Linked DNA regions of Homo sapiens. The protein of the gene in region 1 purifies or fractionates together with the protein of each later gene. This does not show direct contact. Each region holds a gene or a part of one and is shown on either strand. Other genes may lie near its edges.

Region 1 (3,500 bases):
GAAACAAATACGTGTGTGTGTGTGTGTGAGTGTGTGCGCTAGAATACTATACAGACTTTTAGGCTACCCAACTACCTCACTTTGAAATACATTAAATATAATTTCTTAAAATAGAAATGTTATTATGACAGGCACGCCTGTAATCCCAGCACTTTGGGAGGCCGAGGCGGGAGGATCACGAGGTCAGGAGATCGAGACCATCCTGGCTAACATGGTGAAACCCCATCTGTACTAAACATACAAAAAAAAAATTAGCCAGACATGGTGGCAGGCGCCTGTAGTCCCAGCTACTCGGGAGGCTGAGGCAGGAGAATGGCGTGAACCCGGGAGGCTGAGGCAGGAGAATGGCACGAACCCGGGAGGCGGAGCTTGCAGTGAGCCGCGATCGCGCCACTGCACTCCAGCCTGGGCCACAGAGCCAGACTCCGTCTCAAAAAAAAAAAAAAAAGAAACGTTATGACAAAACAGAAATTCTGGTGGCCAACATCACACAACAGTTTGTAAATCAGATCTGCACAAAATACATCTGAAATAAATGACACTAATAACAATGTTGCATGTATTTTTTTCTTCATTTCTACGGTTGCAATGCACAGTTCAATAACAGTAATACCTAATAGTCAACCATACTACTAATTCTCATAAAATCTGTCTAATCTGGCTAACTGGTTAGCTCCTGTGAAATAAATGTATCATTCACTTTCAAAAAAAACACACACACACACAAATCAGTACTCCTACTACTAGCTTAAAGAAGGGGAACATTGTTATTATTGTTATTTTCTTCAATCAAAAATAAGTCGAATGTTTCAAAAAAAATCTACTCTATCTTTGATTCAAAGTTGAGAGACAGCTGAATTAACTGTTCATAAAAAATAAACAATTTTTCTGTTGTCTGTTTCTCTATAAATATGTAAATAGTAATATTTACATATTTTCATTGAGATGAGTTTCATCTCAATTTTAAATTATTAGGCAAAAATAATTATAGAACAAAATTAACTTAGTTATCACAATTTATAGCACTAGTACAAACTGGTGAGAGAGATCTCTGAAAGTGGTAAGGAATACAATTAAAAACCAGGCTGGCCGGGCGCAGTGGCTCATGCCTGTAATCCCAGCACTTTGGGAGGCCGAGGCAGGCGGATCACAAGGTCAGGAGTTCCAGAGCAGCCTGACCAACATGGCGAAACCCCATTTCTATTAAAAACACAAATAAATTAGACAGGCATGGTGGCAGGCGCCTGTAATCCCAGCTCCTGGGAGGCTGAGGCAAGAGAATCCCTTGAACCCGGGAGCTGAATGTTGCAGTGAGCCAAGACTTCACCAGCCTGGGTGACACAGTGGGACTCTGGTCTCAAAAAAAAACCAAAACAAAAAAAAAAAATGATAAGCTATATAAGCACCTGGCATAAATTCAATAAATACATACTATCCTAAACACACCCCCTTGCCCATTCTTCTCACAAAGAATAGGCCCTACCTAACTTCTTCCCAGTGAGTACTTCAAGCAACATCCACAGCAAAATATTTGTAGCATACAGGCCTAAGGTACATTATTGTCTCTTTAAAATTATGAACTCATCACACATACAAATGGCTCTTTAAAACAGTCCAGTAAACTGCTACACTATGCCTTAAATTGCTGTCTATTATGTACTTAAAAATATTTACTAGCAATTGGAGGTTAATATGGCAACTATTACCGGGTGGCAATTATTGCTATTAAAAATATATAAATACTGTAACACCATGTGCTACTAACAACAAAATGCTAAACCGAAAACATACATTAACAAATTGTAAATATTTTCATTACAGAAAATGATAGCCAGGCGTAGTGGCTCATGCCTGTAATCCCAGCACTTTGGGAGGCTGAGGCAGGTGGATCACCTGAGGTCGGGAGTTTGAGACCAGCCTGACCAATATGGAGAAACCCCGTCTCTACTAAAAATACAAAATTAGCCGGGCGTGGTGGCACATGCCTGTAATCCCAGGTATTCCGGAGGCTGAGGGAGGAGAATCGCTAGAACCTGGGAGGCAGAGGTTGCAGTGAACTGAGATGGCACCTTTGCACTCCAGCCTGAGCAACAAGGCGAAACTCCGTCTCAAAAAAATAAAAAATAAAAAGAAAGAAAATGAACCATCATGGAAAAAAATGCTTTAAACATAAATTATAAAATCACAATGAACTGGTACAAAAAAATACCTTGTGTATTTTGGCACTTTGAAAATTAGAGAAATCATTCCCTTTTCCTAATTTCCATTTTATAGTCCACCCTATTTTGTTCTAGCGCAAAAAAAAAAAAAATTCAGACTTTCTACATTTACAACTACCTTCCCATTCTGCAAAAAAATCCCTTAAGACAAAAAGAAAGTAGGTCAACAATAGATTACCTTAAAAGCTTCAAATATAGAACTAATGGTCTTCAATAGGAATTATGTACTAATGGGTGTACTAGTGTCTCAATTCAGCAAGAATTTGAGATTATCACCCAATTATCCATAGTCAGGAAGATTCTAAGCAAATAAAACATGAAAGTGGAGCATACATATCTAAGAACTAGAGATCACTCCCTCATATCAAAGAGCACATATTTAAATCTAGTTAAAGGGCACAAAATCACTTTCTCCATATTAACTCAATAGAGAAAAATAAATGTCTACTTAACATCCAGAAATTATGTCTTCTCACAAGAATGAGTTCACATACCATAGGGTGCACTGTTACACTTTTCAAAAAGGCAGATTTAACACACTTTTAACTGAATGATTAACTGAGTGAATATATAAAAAGTCACCCAGAAATGTGATGGACAGCATAAGAAAATAGTTTTGAGTCAGAAAGGCACAGGCAGGCATGCACTTAATGCAGCAGCTACAAATCTCACAGCAGTTAGAATAAGAAACTTATACAATGACCCATATCATATATACACAATGGCATTTTTCACACGTTAGGAAAAGGGAATGGATGCTGAAAAATTAATTTAAGAAATTTGATTCCGTGCAGTAAAAAATCAGAAAATAAGTAAAAGACTAGCAGAAATCTTAAAGTGTCTGATTGATTGCACAATCAACTTTTGGTAAGCCATAATGAACACCTCAAGGTAATGGAAACTGGGTGGGTATTACCACGGTACAGAACTTAATCTCTTATTTCAATCTAACTAATGAGAGTATCTAGGTAAATTCTTTATAAATACTTTTCTCTGCAAAAAAAAACAAAACAAAAAAAAAAAAAACCCTGCAGGCCAAAAGAAAAAAATGCATGCTATTATTAAACCATAAAGCGTTCTTATAAAAAAACATGATTTTGAACAAGTGATTACATCTCCTTCAGAAATAACTATGATATACAATGTACTTTGGGCAACATATTTTTAATATTCCAGGTTGCTACTGCTGTATAGCATTTTCAAAAAAAAAAAATCTCAATTTGGAATCAGAAAAATGTACAAGTCAGCAGTTTAATTAATTTACATTTCTTCAATAGCACC
Region 2 (3,500 bases), on another chromosome or scaffold:
CTTCTGCACCTCCTTCAGCAGGAGGTCAAAGGGGAATGGCGACAGCTAGGAGACAGCAGGGGTCAGATCAAAAAGAGGAAACTCAGAGGGCAGGCAAGATCCAGCAAAGGGAAACTGGTGTTCCGAGCAGGGAAGGTCAGGAACCTGAGGGCCACACCCCAAGCAAGGCTGTTCTGTGAAGGCACCAGAGCCCTGACCCCCGCTGGGGGGACACCCTGATGGCACCACCTGCCCTCACCTGCTCAATCCTTGTGATGGCCACCTGCCCCACCATGTCGCGTGCTTTGCGCTCCCGGGTGAGGTCATAATACACTTTGCCGGTGCAGAAGAGAAGCCTTTTGACATTTTCTGGGTTCTGAGCTGCAGGGCCATCTTCTGGGATCACCCGCTGGAAGTGGGTTCCTACAAGAGAGTTCCCATGGCTAGGCTGGTTCTCTCAGGTATGTGGCTGAGAGCTCTCCTGGGCCCAGGGCTGTGCCAGGGACTGCTGCCAGGAGACGCAGCTTTCAAGGGTTAGAGATGCTTCCCCTTCACCAGCCTCTGATGCCCTGTATTTGCTCAGACCAGGCACACTTTGAAAAGCACGTTACGTGTAACAAATACACAGCAGACATGGCCAGCTCTGGGTATCAAGTAACACCAGGCTAGCCTTCAAAACAGCTTGGCTCAGACTTCGGGGACAAGAGTATTATTAAAACATCCCGGCCGGGTGCGGTGGCTCACGCCTGCAATCCTAGCACTTTGGGAAGCTGAGGCGGGCGGATTGCCTGAGTTCAGGAGTTCGAGACCAGCCTGGGCAACATGGTGAAACCCCGTCTCTACTAAAAAAATACAAAAAATGAGCCAGGCATGGTGGTGTGCGCCTGTGGTCCCAGCTACTCGGGAGGCTGAGGTGGAAGAATCGGTTGGGCCCGGGAGGCAGAGGTTGCAGTGAGCTGAGATCATGCACTACAGTCTGGGCAACAGAGCAAGACTCCATCTCCAGACAAAAAAAAAAAAAAATACCAGCCGGGCGCATGGCTCACGCCTGTAAATCCCAGCACTTTGGGAGGCTGAGGCAGGCGGATCACCTGAGGTCAGGAGTTCGAGACCAGACTGACCAACATGGTGAAACCCTGTCTTTACTAGAAATACAAAATAAGCCAGGCATGGTGGCGCATGCCTGTAATCTCAGCTACTCGGGGGGCCGAGGCAGGAGAATTGCTTGAACCCGGGAGGCGGAGGTTGTGGTGAGCCAAGAATGCGCCATTGCACTCCAGCCTGGGCAACAAGAGCAAAACTCCATCTCAAAAAAAAAAAAAAATTATATAAAAAAAATCCCATGTTTACTCTGTTTCTGCTGCTCAGAATTTTACAAATATAAAAACTTTCAACACAATCAGAGAAAATATTCAGATAGAGAACAGTGGGTTGGCCAGCACTTTGGGAGGCTGAGGCAGGAGGATCCCTTGAGCTCAGGAGTTCGAGACCAGCCTGGGCAACATGGTGATACTCCGTCTCTACAAAAGTACAAAAATTAGCCAGGCACGGTGGTGCACACCTTGTGTTCCCAGCTACTTGGGAGGCTTTGGTGGGAGAATCACTCTAGCCTGGGAGGCAGAGGTTACAGTGAACCATGATGACCATGCCTCTGCACTCCAACCTGGGTGACAGGGTAAGAATCTATCTCAAAAAAATATAGAAAAGTGGGTTGAATGGTACAAACATACAGTTAGATAGAAGGAATTAAGTTCAACGTTTGATAAAGGAGTAAGGTTAACAAACATGTATCGTACTCGGGTGACGGACACCCTAATACCCTGACTTAAGCACTACGCATCATATGCACGTAACCAAAACCAGTTGTGTTTCTATACACTAACAATGAACAATAAGAAGAGGAAATTAGGCCAACAATTCCATTTATGATACAAACAGAATAAAAGTCTGGGCACAGTGGCTCACACATGTAATCCCAGTACTCTGGGAGGCCAAAGTAGGAGGATCACTTGAGCCCAGGAATTGAGGCTGCAGTGAGCTACGATTGCATCAGCCTGGATGACAGAGTGAGACTCTGTCTCAAAAAAACACAAACAAAAAATAAAAAACAAAACAAATTAGCTCAAAGTGGGTCAAAGATCTAAACATAAGAGCAAAAACTATAAAACTCAGAAGAAAACATAGGGCAAAAGTTTCACAACACTGAATTTGGTAATGATTTCTTAGATATGACACCAAAGTCACAGGCAACTGAAGAAAAAATAGACAAATCTGACTTCATGAAAATTAAAAACTTGGCCGGGCGCGGTGGCTCACGCCTGTAATCCCAGCACTTTGGGAGGCCGAGGCGGGCGGATCACGAGGTCAGGAGATCGAGACCATCCCGGCTAAAACGGTGAAACCCCGTCTCTACTAAAAATACAAAAAATTAGCTGGGCGTAGTGGCGGGCGCCTGTAGTCCCAGCTACTTGGGAGGCTGAGGCAGGAGAATGGCGTGAACCCGGGAGGTGGAGCTTGCAGTGAGCCGAGATCCCGCCACTGCACTCCAGCCTGGGCGACAGAGCGAGACTCCGTCTCAAAAAAAAAAAAAAAAAAAGAAAATTAAAAACTTTTGTACATCAAAAGATACTAACAACAGGCCAGGTGCAGTGCCTCACGCCTGTAATCCCAGCACTTTGGGAGGCTGTGGTGGGCAGATCACCTGAGGTCAGGAGTTCAAGACCAGCCTGGTCAACATGGTGGAACCCTGTCTATACTAAAAATACAAAAATTAGCTAGGCATGGTGGCGTGCGCCTGTAATCCCAGCTACTTGGGAGGCTGAGGCAGGAGAATCACTTGAACCTGGGAGGCAGAGGTTGCAGTGAGCTGAGATTGCACTAATGCACTCCAGCCTGGGTAACAGAGTAAGACTCCATCTCGGAAAAAAACAAAAAACAAACAAAAAAAACACCCAAACCCAAAACCAAAACCAAAGATACTAACAACAGAATAAAAGAACAACCCATAGAACGGGAGAAAATATTTGCAAATTATATTTCTGATAAGGAATTAATATCTAGAATATACAGAGAACTCTTAAGACTCAAAAACAAGCAACCAGATTCAAAAATGGGCAAATAATTTGAATAGGCTGGGTACCGTGGCTCATGCCTGTAATCTCAATACTTTGAGGCCAAAGTAGGAGGATTCCTTGAGCCCAGGAGTTCAAGACTAGCCTGGGCAACATAGAGAGATCCTGTCTCTTAAAAAAAATTAAATTAAAAAAAAAAAGGATTTTAATAGACAGTTCTCCAAGGAAGATATACAAGTGGCCAATAAGCATATGAAAAGATGCTCAACATCACTTAATCATTACAGAAATATAAATCAAAGCCACAATGAAATATCATCTCACACCCATTAAGATGGCTACTATGAAAAAACCAGAAAATAGTAGGTGCTGATGAGGATGTAGAGATGGTGGGATCCTCATATACTGTTGGTGGGATGTAAAATGCAGCCACTGTGGAAAGTTTGGCAG
Region 3 (3,500 bases), on another chromosome or scaffold:
TTCTGTGCCTGGTTTATTTTATTTAATACAATGTCCTCTAGGTTCATCCATGTTGTCACATTTGACAGAATTTCTTTTTTAAAGCTGAATAGTATTCCATTATGTTGTATATACCACATTTATATCCCATCCATCAATGGACACTTAGGATGATTCCATATCTTGGCTATTGTGAATAATGGTGTACCTAACATGAGAGTACAGATACCTCTTTGACATACTGAGTACATTCCCTTTGGATATATATCTGGTAGTGAGACTGTTGGGTGATATGGTAGTTTTATTTTTAATTGTATGAGGAACCTCCATACTGTTTTCCACAATGGCTATACTAATTTACATTGCTACCAACAGTGTGCAAAGGGTCCCTTTCTCCCTACATTCTAACACTTGTTGTCTTTCATCTTTTTTATAATAGCGATTCTAACAGGACATGCCATCTCGTGCTTTAATTTGCATTTTCTTGATTAGTGATGTTTTAATACACTTGTTGACCATTTGTATGTCTTCTTTTGAGAAATGTTTATTCAGATCCTTTGCCTATTTTTTAATTGGGTTCTTCTCTTGTTATTTTTTGAGTCCCCTATATATTTTGGATAGTAACCCCTTAAAAGATGTATGGTTTGGCAAATGTTATTTTAGATTTTACCCTCTTCTGTGAAGGCTCAGAAGGCTGACTGCCTTCAGACCCAGGAACAGAGACTTAAATGAGCACTGAGATTTGCTTCCCCAGAACAGTTTTATAGATAGAAAAGCACTTCTGGTCAGCAACTTAGAACTGTTCGTTTGTCGGGAACAGTTGTGTGAGTGGAAATTGCAATATCAGCTGTTATCAGCTCTAACTAGGTCTTGAAATTTGCATAATTTCAGCTCCAGTGTTACATGAAAGTTATGTGGTGTTTGGAAGGATGCCTTTTTCTTTGTTTTTTAGCAAAGGAGTCTTTTAAATCATTTGTATACAAAAGGAATTAGGATCCAAATGCTGTTATTGATACAGGTTTGATGCTTCAAATGTGGCTTTTCCCTCCCTTAGGGGTATAGAACAGGCTATGCTTACAGGCATCCTCTCATTCGAGAGAAGCCTAGGCACAAGAGTGATGTGGAAATCCCAGCAACTGTGACTGCTTTTTCCTTTGAAGACGATACAGTGCCACTCTCTCCTCTCAAATACATGGCACAGAGGCAACAGCGTGAAAAAACAAGATGGCTGAACTCACCAAATACTTACATGAAAGTGAATGTGCCTGAGGAGTCTCGGAACGGAGAAACCAGTCCCCGAACCAAAATCACGGTATGCCAGTATTTTATGTAGTTTGCCTTTACTAAATATTTTGCCTAGTTACTCAAGAATTGAATGTTCTATATTGAAAATATTTGGAAAGTAAAATAATATTAAAAATATTACTGTCACTTATCTGGCTTTAACTTTGTGCAAGACACTCTTCTAAGTGCCATACACGAATTTTCTCATTTAACTCTCCTAATATGAATGATGCTGTTTTTCTATTTTATAGATGAGAAAACCAAGGCAAGAAGGGTTAATTAATCATGTTTTAATGGTAAACTCGGGATTTGCATGAAGACAGTCTGACTCTTGAGCCCAGTTCTTGTCCACTACATGATACTGCTTTGTAGTTTCTATTAAACTACACCAGTAGTTTAATTCACCAGTGAATTAAAACTGTAAAAGTTATCAACTCCTAATTGTACCAAAGCTGCATGAATCACTGCACATAGCTACCCTTAGGCAAGATCTTGTAGGTAGAGAAATGGGTTATTTTATCTTTTTCAGAATTTTGCATTAGATTTGGTTTGGTTTGGTTTTGGAGTGCATACCACCAAACATTCTCTAGGTCAGTCTTGTCCAGTCCATGGCCCAGGATGGCTTTGGATGCAGCTCAACACAAATTTGTAAACTTTATTAAAACATTATGAGAATTTTTTGTGATTTTGTTAAACTAATCAGCTATCGTTAGTGTTGGTGTATTTTATATGTGGCCCAAGACAGTTCTTCCAATGTGGCCCAGGGAAGTCAAAAGATTGGACACCACAGTTCTAGATATTCAGAATTAGTTCATCTTATATAAACTAATGGCATTCAATATGAAAATACCTAGGCATCAAAATGTCTTTTCTGTAGTCTATAAGATTTCTTGCCTCCCAGTAAAAGAACATAATTAAACTCATTGGTTTCTCAGAATTCATTTTGTTTACAGAGATTGATGGTCAGCCATCATTAATCTTGATCGAGATTCGCTTTCTTTAAGGATTATAATATGGGGTAAATGAGAAGAATTATGTAAGCTCCTTCCAACCCCGTGGTTCTATTTTGCTATTATATACCAGATTATCCCCATTATAAAATGCCGATTAGGGCTTGGCCTTTTCTGTCAGCCAAAAATAAAAAGTGAAGTCTGATAAACTAAAATCTTAAGATATTTCTTAAGTTTTTTTTTTTTTTGATTACTCCTTTGCCATCTTCATCTGACTGCTGTCTTCAGTGCAGAAGACAAAACACTGAATGTGAGTGAATGTGAGATCATGCTCTCTGTGCTTGAAGTAGTTTCAGCATCATATTTTCACTTGACACAAGGAGAAAGTTTAATTAGCAGTATAATTGAATATTTATGTGAATCGTAATGGCATTTATTTTTTAAGTAAATGTTGATTTTGAGCCTTTTCTAACTAGTATGAGATGAAACTAATTCACCACTAAGATACTGCTTAGTGAAATTATTTAAACATTGGCAATGCCCCTCTTGAGACTATAAGCAGTTATCTAACAATCTACTAATATTTTCTTAACACAAAGCTTCATTTTAGAAAATTTTTGATTCTTTAGTGGATGAAAGCAGAAGACTCATCTAAAGTTAGTGGTGGAACACCTATCAAAATTGAAGATCCAAATCAGTTTGTTCCTTTAAACACAAACCCGAATGAGGTACTAGAAAAGAGAAATAAGGTAAGACATGGTCTTCTATAGCCAGGGGAGACATTTTAATTGCTTTATGTTTAAATCACCAGTGGTTGAATCTGGTTAATGCCAAACTTAGAAGTTTGAATACAGAAGAATTTGGAATTTAATTCAGTATAATTTTAGCTTATATTGAATGCCTCCAGCTCTGTGCTAGTAATTGGTGAACAGGCTACATGGGGAAGATGTATTGAACATTTTTCTGCGTTAGAGAACCCTGCTATTAGGGGGAAAATGCAGTTCTCTAACAACCTAAGACGAAAGGAAATAACTTGCCATAAAGAGCAGAGGAGACTAATATGAGTTGTTAGGATGGTAAAAGAGGTCTTTATGGAGGTGGGAATTGAAGAGACTCTCACTCTGGAAATGTCAAGTAGTAAGCTTTTATGAAAAGATAAAGCAAAGGTCATCTGCATAGTTGCCCTCAAGAACTTTATATTGAATTGTTTTTCAATTCAGATTCGGGAACAAAATCGATATGACTTGAAAACAGCAGGACCACAATCTCAGTTGCTTGCTGGAATTG
Region 4 (3,500 bases), on another chromosome or scaffold:
AAAGTGCTGGGATTACAGGCGTGAGCCACCGCGCCCGGCCAATCTACTTCCTTTTTTAAGGAAGAAGATTTTTGTGGTCTTTTAGTATAGCAGTTAAATCATACCCTAACTAATATAAGGCCTTACAGTGAAAAAGTAAGTTACTCACCCAACCTTGGTCTTCCATATTATTTTTACACACATGGTAGTATACACTTTACATTGTTTTAAACCTTGCTTTTTTCACTTAATATGTTTCAGTTGTGGATCTACACCAGCCCTCATAGAGCCATCTCATCTTTTTAACAGTTGCATAATATTCCATTGTGTGAATGTATTATAAATTACTAAGGAGCTCCTTGTGGGTGGACTTACTCTTAATTCGCCGCAGGTAAGCCTCATCCTCTGTCTCAATCAGGGGGAAGTCCTCCCTGGATGGGCATCTGGAGGGGTAACAGGTCGCATGCCATTGAGAGACAGAAGCTAGGTTATAGACCAGAATCAGCCTTCCCTCCTTCCCAAACATGCCTTATGCTTCCATCTTCTGATAAGACTCCTCAGCCTCACACCCTAGCTTTAATTTAGTCCTGACCTTCTCCCTTTTCTTTCTTTTTTTTTTGAGACGGAGTCTTACTCTGTCACCCAGGCTGGAGTGCAAGGGCGCTATCTCAGCTCACTACAACCTCCTCCTGGGTTCAAGTGATTCACTTGTCTCAGCCTCCTGAGTAGCTAGGATTACAGGCACGCACCACCATGCCTGGCTAATTTTTGTATTTTTAGTAGACATGGGGTTTCGTCACGTTGGCCAGGCTGGTCTCAAACTCCTGACCTCAGGTGATCCTCCGCCTCCCAAAGTGCTGGGATTACAGGCATGAGCCACCGCGCCCGGCCGACCTTCTCCCATTTCTTAGCACTGATTATCTGCGTTTACTGAGATATATCTCTCCAAAGGTCGCTTGGAAAGGCAGCACAGTGCAGAGGGTCAAGTACAGGCTTTGGCATCAAGCAAACAGGATGCAAATCCTGGCTCCACTGTTTACCAGGTGGTAACCTCTCTATTTCCTCATTTGAAAAATGAAGGTAATATCTTCCTCATAGGTTTTTCATTAGGATTAAATGAAATGTTAAAGTGCTTTGAACATAACAGAAGCTCAACAAATCAATTACAATTAATATTATTAATTTCCACAATTATAATTTTTTTTTTGAGAGAGAGTCTTGCACTTTCGCCCAGGCTGGAGTCCAGTGACAGGATCTTGGCTCACTGCAACCTCTGCCTCCCAGGTTCAGGTGATTCTCCTGCCTCAGTCTCCCAAGCAGCTGGGACTACAGGCACGCACCACCATGCCTGGCTAAGTTTTATATTTTTAGTAGAGACAGGGTTTCGCCATGTTGGCCAGGCTGGTCTCGAACTCCAGTGGTCCGCCTGTCTCAGCCTCCCAAAGTGCTGGGATTCCAGGTGTGAGCCACAGCGCCTGGCCACAATTATAAATATTAATACTATTAATAAAGAAGCCACTACAGATCTGTCAACAGGACAGGTTATTTTGAACTGCTTTCTTGGAATAGGCAATTTCATAATTTTTTTTTGGAGATGGAGTCTCACTCTGTCACCTAGGCTGGAGTGCAGTGGCACAATCCTGACTCACTGCAACCTCCACCCCCGGGTTCAAGCGATTCTCCTGCCTCAGCTTCCCGCGTAACTGGGATTACAAGCTTATGCCACCACGCCCGGCTAATTTTTGTATTTTTAGTAGAGACGAGGTTTCACCATATTGGCCGGGCTGGTCTTGAACTCCTGACCTCAAGTGATCTACCCGCCTCAGCCTCTCAAAGTGCCGGGATTACAGGCGTGAGCCACTGTGCCTGGCCTGCAATTTCATACTTTTATATGCATTTCTAAAAACCTTTTCAAAATTCCATGGTGCAGAAGTTAAAAAAAAAAAAAGGTTTACAAATTATAAAGTTGAGAACTGATTCCCTGAAAGCTAAAGAAAAATTATAAAAATCTTGGCTGGGCATGGTGGCTAATGCCTGTAATCTCAGCTCTTTTGGAGGCTGAGGTGGGCGGATAAATCTGAGATCAGGAGTTCGAGACCAGCTTGGTCAACATGGCAAAACCCCGTCTCCACTAAAAATACAAAAATTTGGCTGGGTGCAGTGGCTCATGCCTGTAATCCCAGGACTTTGGGAGGCTGAGGCGGGTCGATTACGAGGTCAAGATATCAAGACCATCCTGGCCAACATGGTAAAACCCCGTCTCTACTAAAAATACAAAAATTAGCTGGGCATGGTGGCGTGAGCCTGTAGTCCCAGCTACTCAGGAGGCTGAGGCAGCCCGGCAACAGAGACTCTGTCTCCAAAAAAAAAAAAAAAAAAAAAAAATTTGCCTGGGGTCGTGGTGGGCACCTGTAGTCCCAGCTATTTGGGAGGCTGAGGCAGGAGAATCGCTTGAATCCAGGAGGTGGAGGTTGCAGTGAGCTGAGAGCGAGACTCTGTCTCAAAAAAAATTAAAAAAAAAAAAGAAAGAAAACCTGTAAAAATCTGAATTAGAATTACACTTACACTTCATTCTTTAGGCATAATCTTCCAGAATCCATTTTAAACATCTTACCTGTGCTTTATTTGATGTTTTTTCCCATCACAATTAGACACATAGTTGACTGCCTCAAATCTAATGTGTGTCCAATAGAAGCTAAAGATTTGCTGCTTTGACACACTGATTTCCTTCTTGCTTCTATTGTGTTGAGTCTGTTTATGAGACTTGTTCCTCTCTAGTATCGATGCTTTCATTATCCTCTTTTTCATTCATTTTTAGAAAAATAAATGTAAAATACAATACAATCCAAATAACAGCCCTCTGCCTACAGATGAACATGTGAATGCAGCTGAAATTGTACTGTTGGCTGGCAGGTATGCCACCATGTGACAGCTCAAAGTATTCCCTTGCTTGTCAGCTCATGCTGAATTTGAAAGGGAGTTGAGGTTGGCAATGTATAAAATGTGGCTTTACAGGACATAAGAACATAGGTGACCTTTCCAGTCTTGGGCCATTTTGTCTCTCCCTCAACCTCTTCCCCCACCTCTGAATGCTGGATTCTGTTCCCAGGGAGTTCTATGGTTGGGATCTAATGCTGCAGGTACCCTGAGGTCATAAGCACATGCAGGCGGCAGGCAGACACTCACGTGCGCACGCTCTGCTGAATGACCCGGATCCAGGTGCTCCGGTCATCCCGGGATGCTGTGTGCACCTCGTACATCTCAGGTGGGGCTGCGCTGATCAGAAACATCCCTTTCTCCTGGTTGGCAATGTCTCGTACGATTAGATTCTGCAGCGATACCACTGAAGGCTTGTCCTGCCAGTCAGGGGAAAGGAAGGATTAAGCCTGGGAATCCTGTCCCTTGGCATATTTAGGCCTTCAATCCTTCTGGACGAGGACTGAAAGGACTGAAGAGTCATCTTACAATACCAGTTAAGAGCCAGGCACTGGTGCCAGCCAGAAGGGACTTAGAAATGTGTG

Evidence for each region. Proteins that work in one complex are often made in the same cells at the same time.
Region 2: the proteins of MED13L (region 1) and OGDH purify together in Homo sapiens (affinity purification with mass spectrometry; one large-scale study listed by BioGRID and IntAct). This does not show direct contact.
Region 3: the proteins of MED13L (region 1) and ADD3 purify together in Homo sapiens (affinity purification with western blotting; one study listed by BioGRID and IntAct). This does not show direct contact.
Region 4: the proteins of MED13L (region 1) and ARHGEF2 purify together in Homo sapiens (affinity purification with mass spectrometry; one large-scale study listed by BioGRID and IntAct). This does not show direct contact.

What each region holds. Positions count from the first base shown.
Region 1 is NC_000012.12:116,271,194-116,274,693, forward strand, and holds part of MED13L (mediator of RNA polymerase II transcription subunit 13-like), read right to left. Parts: intron 1-3,500. UniProt on the Homo sapiens protein: Component of the Mediator complex, a coactivator involved in the regulated transcription of nearly all RNA polymerase II-dependent genes.
Region 2 is NC_000007.14:44,704,127-44,707,626, reverse strand, and holds part of OGDH (2-oxoglutarate dehydrogenase complex component E1 isoform 1 precursor), read right to left. Parts: intron 403-3,500; coding exon 239-402; intron 46-238; coding exon 1-45. UniProt on the Homo sapiens protein: 2-oxoglutarate dehydrogenase (E1o) component of the 2-oxoglutarate dehydrogenase complex (OGDHC). Participates in the first step, rate limiting for the overall conversion of 2-oxoglutarate to succinyl-CoA and CO(2) catalyzed by the whole OGDHC.
Region 3 is NC_000010.11:110,122,984-110,126,483, forward strand, and holds part of ADD3 (gamma-adducin), read left to right. Parts: intron 1-1,033; coding exon 1,034-1,291; intron 1,292-2,842; coding exon 2,843-2,962; intron 2,963-3,433; coding exon 3,434-3,500. UniProt on the Homo sapiens protein: Membrane-cytoskeleton-associated protein that promotes the assembly of the spectrin-actin network. Plays a role in actin filament capping. Binds to calmodulin.
Region 4 is NC_000001.11:155,954,548-155,958,047, forward strand, and holds part of ARHGEF2 (rho guanine nucleotide exchange factor 2), read right to left. Parts: intron 3,336-3,500; coding exon 3,166-3,335; intron 423-3,165; coding exon 355-422; intron 1-354. UniProt on the Homo sapiens protein: Activates Rho-GTPases by promoting the exchange of GDP for GTP.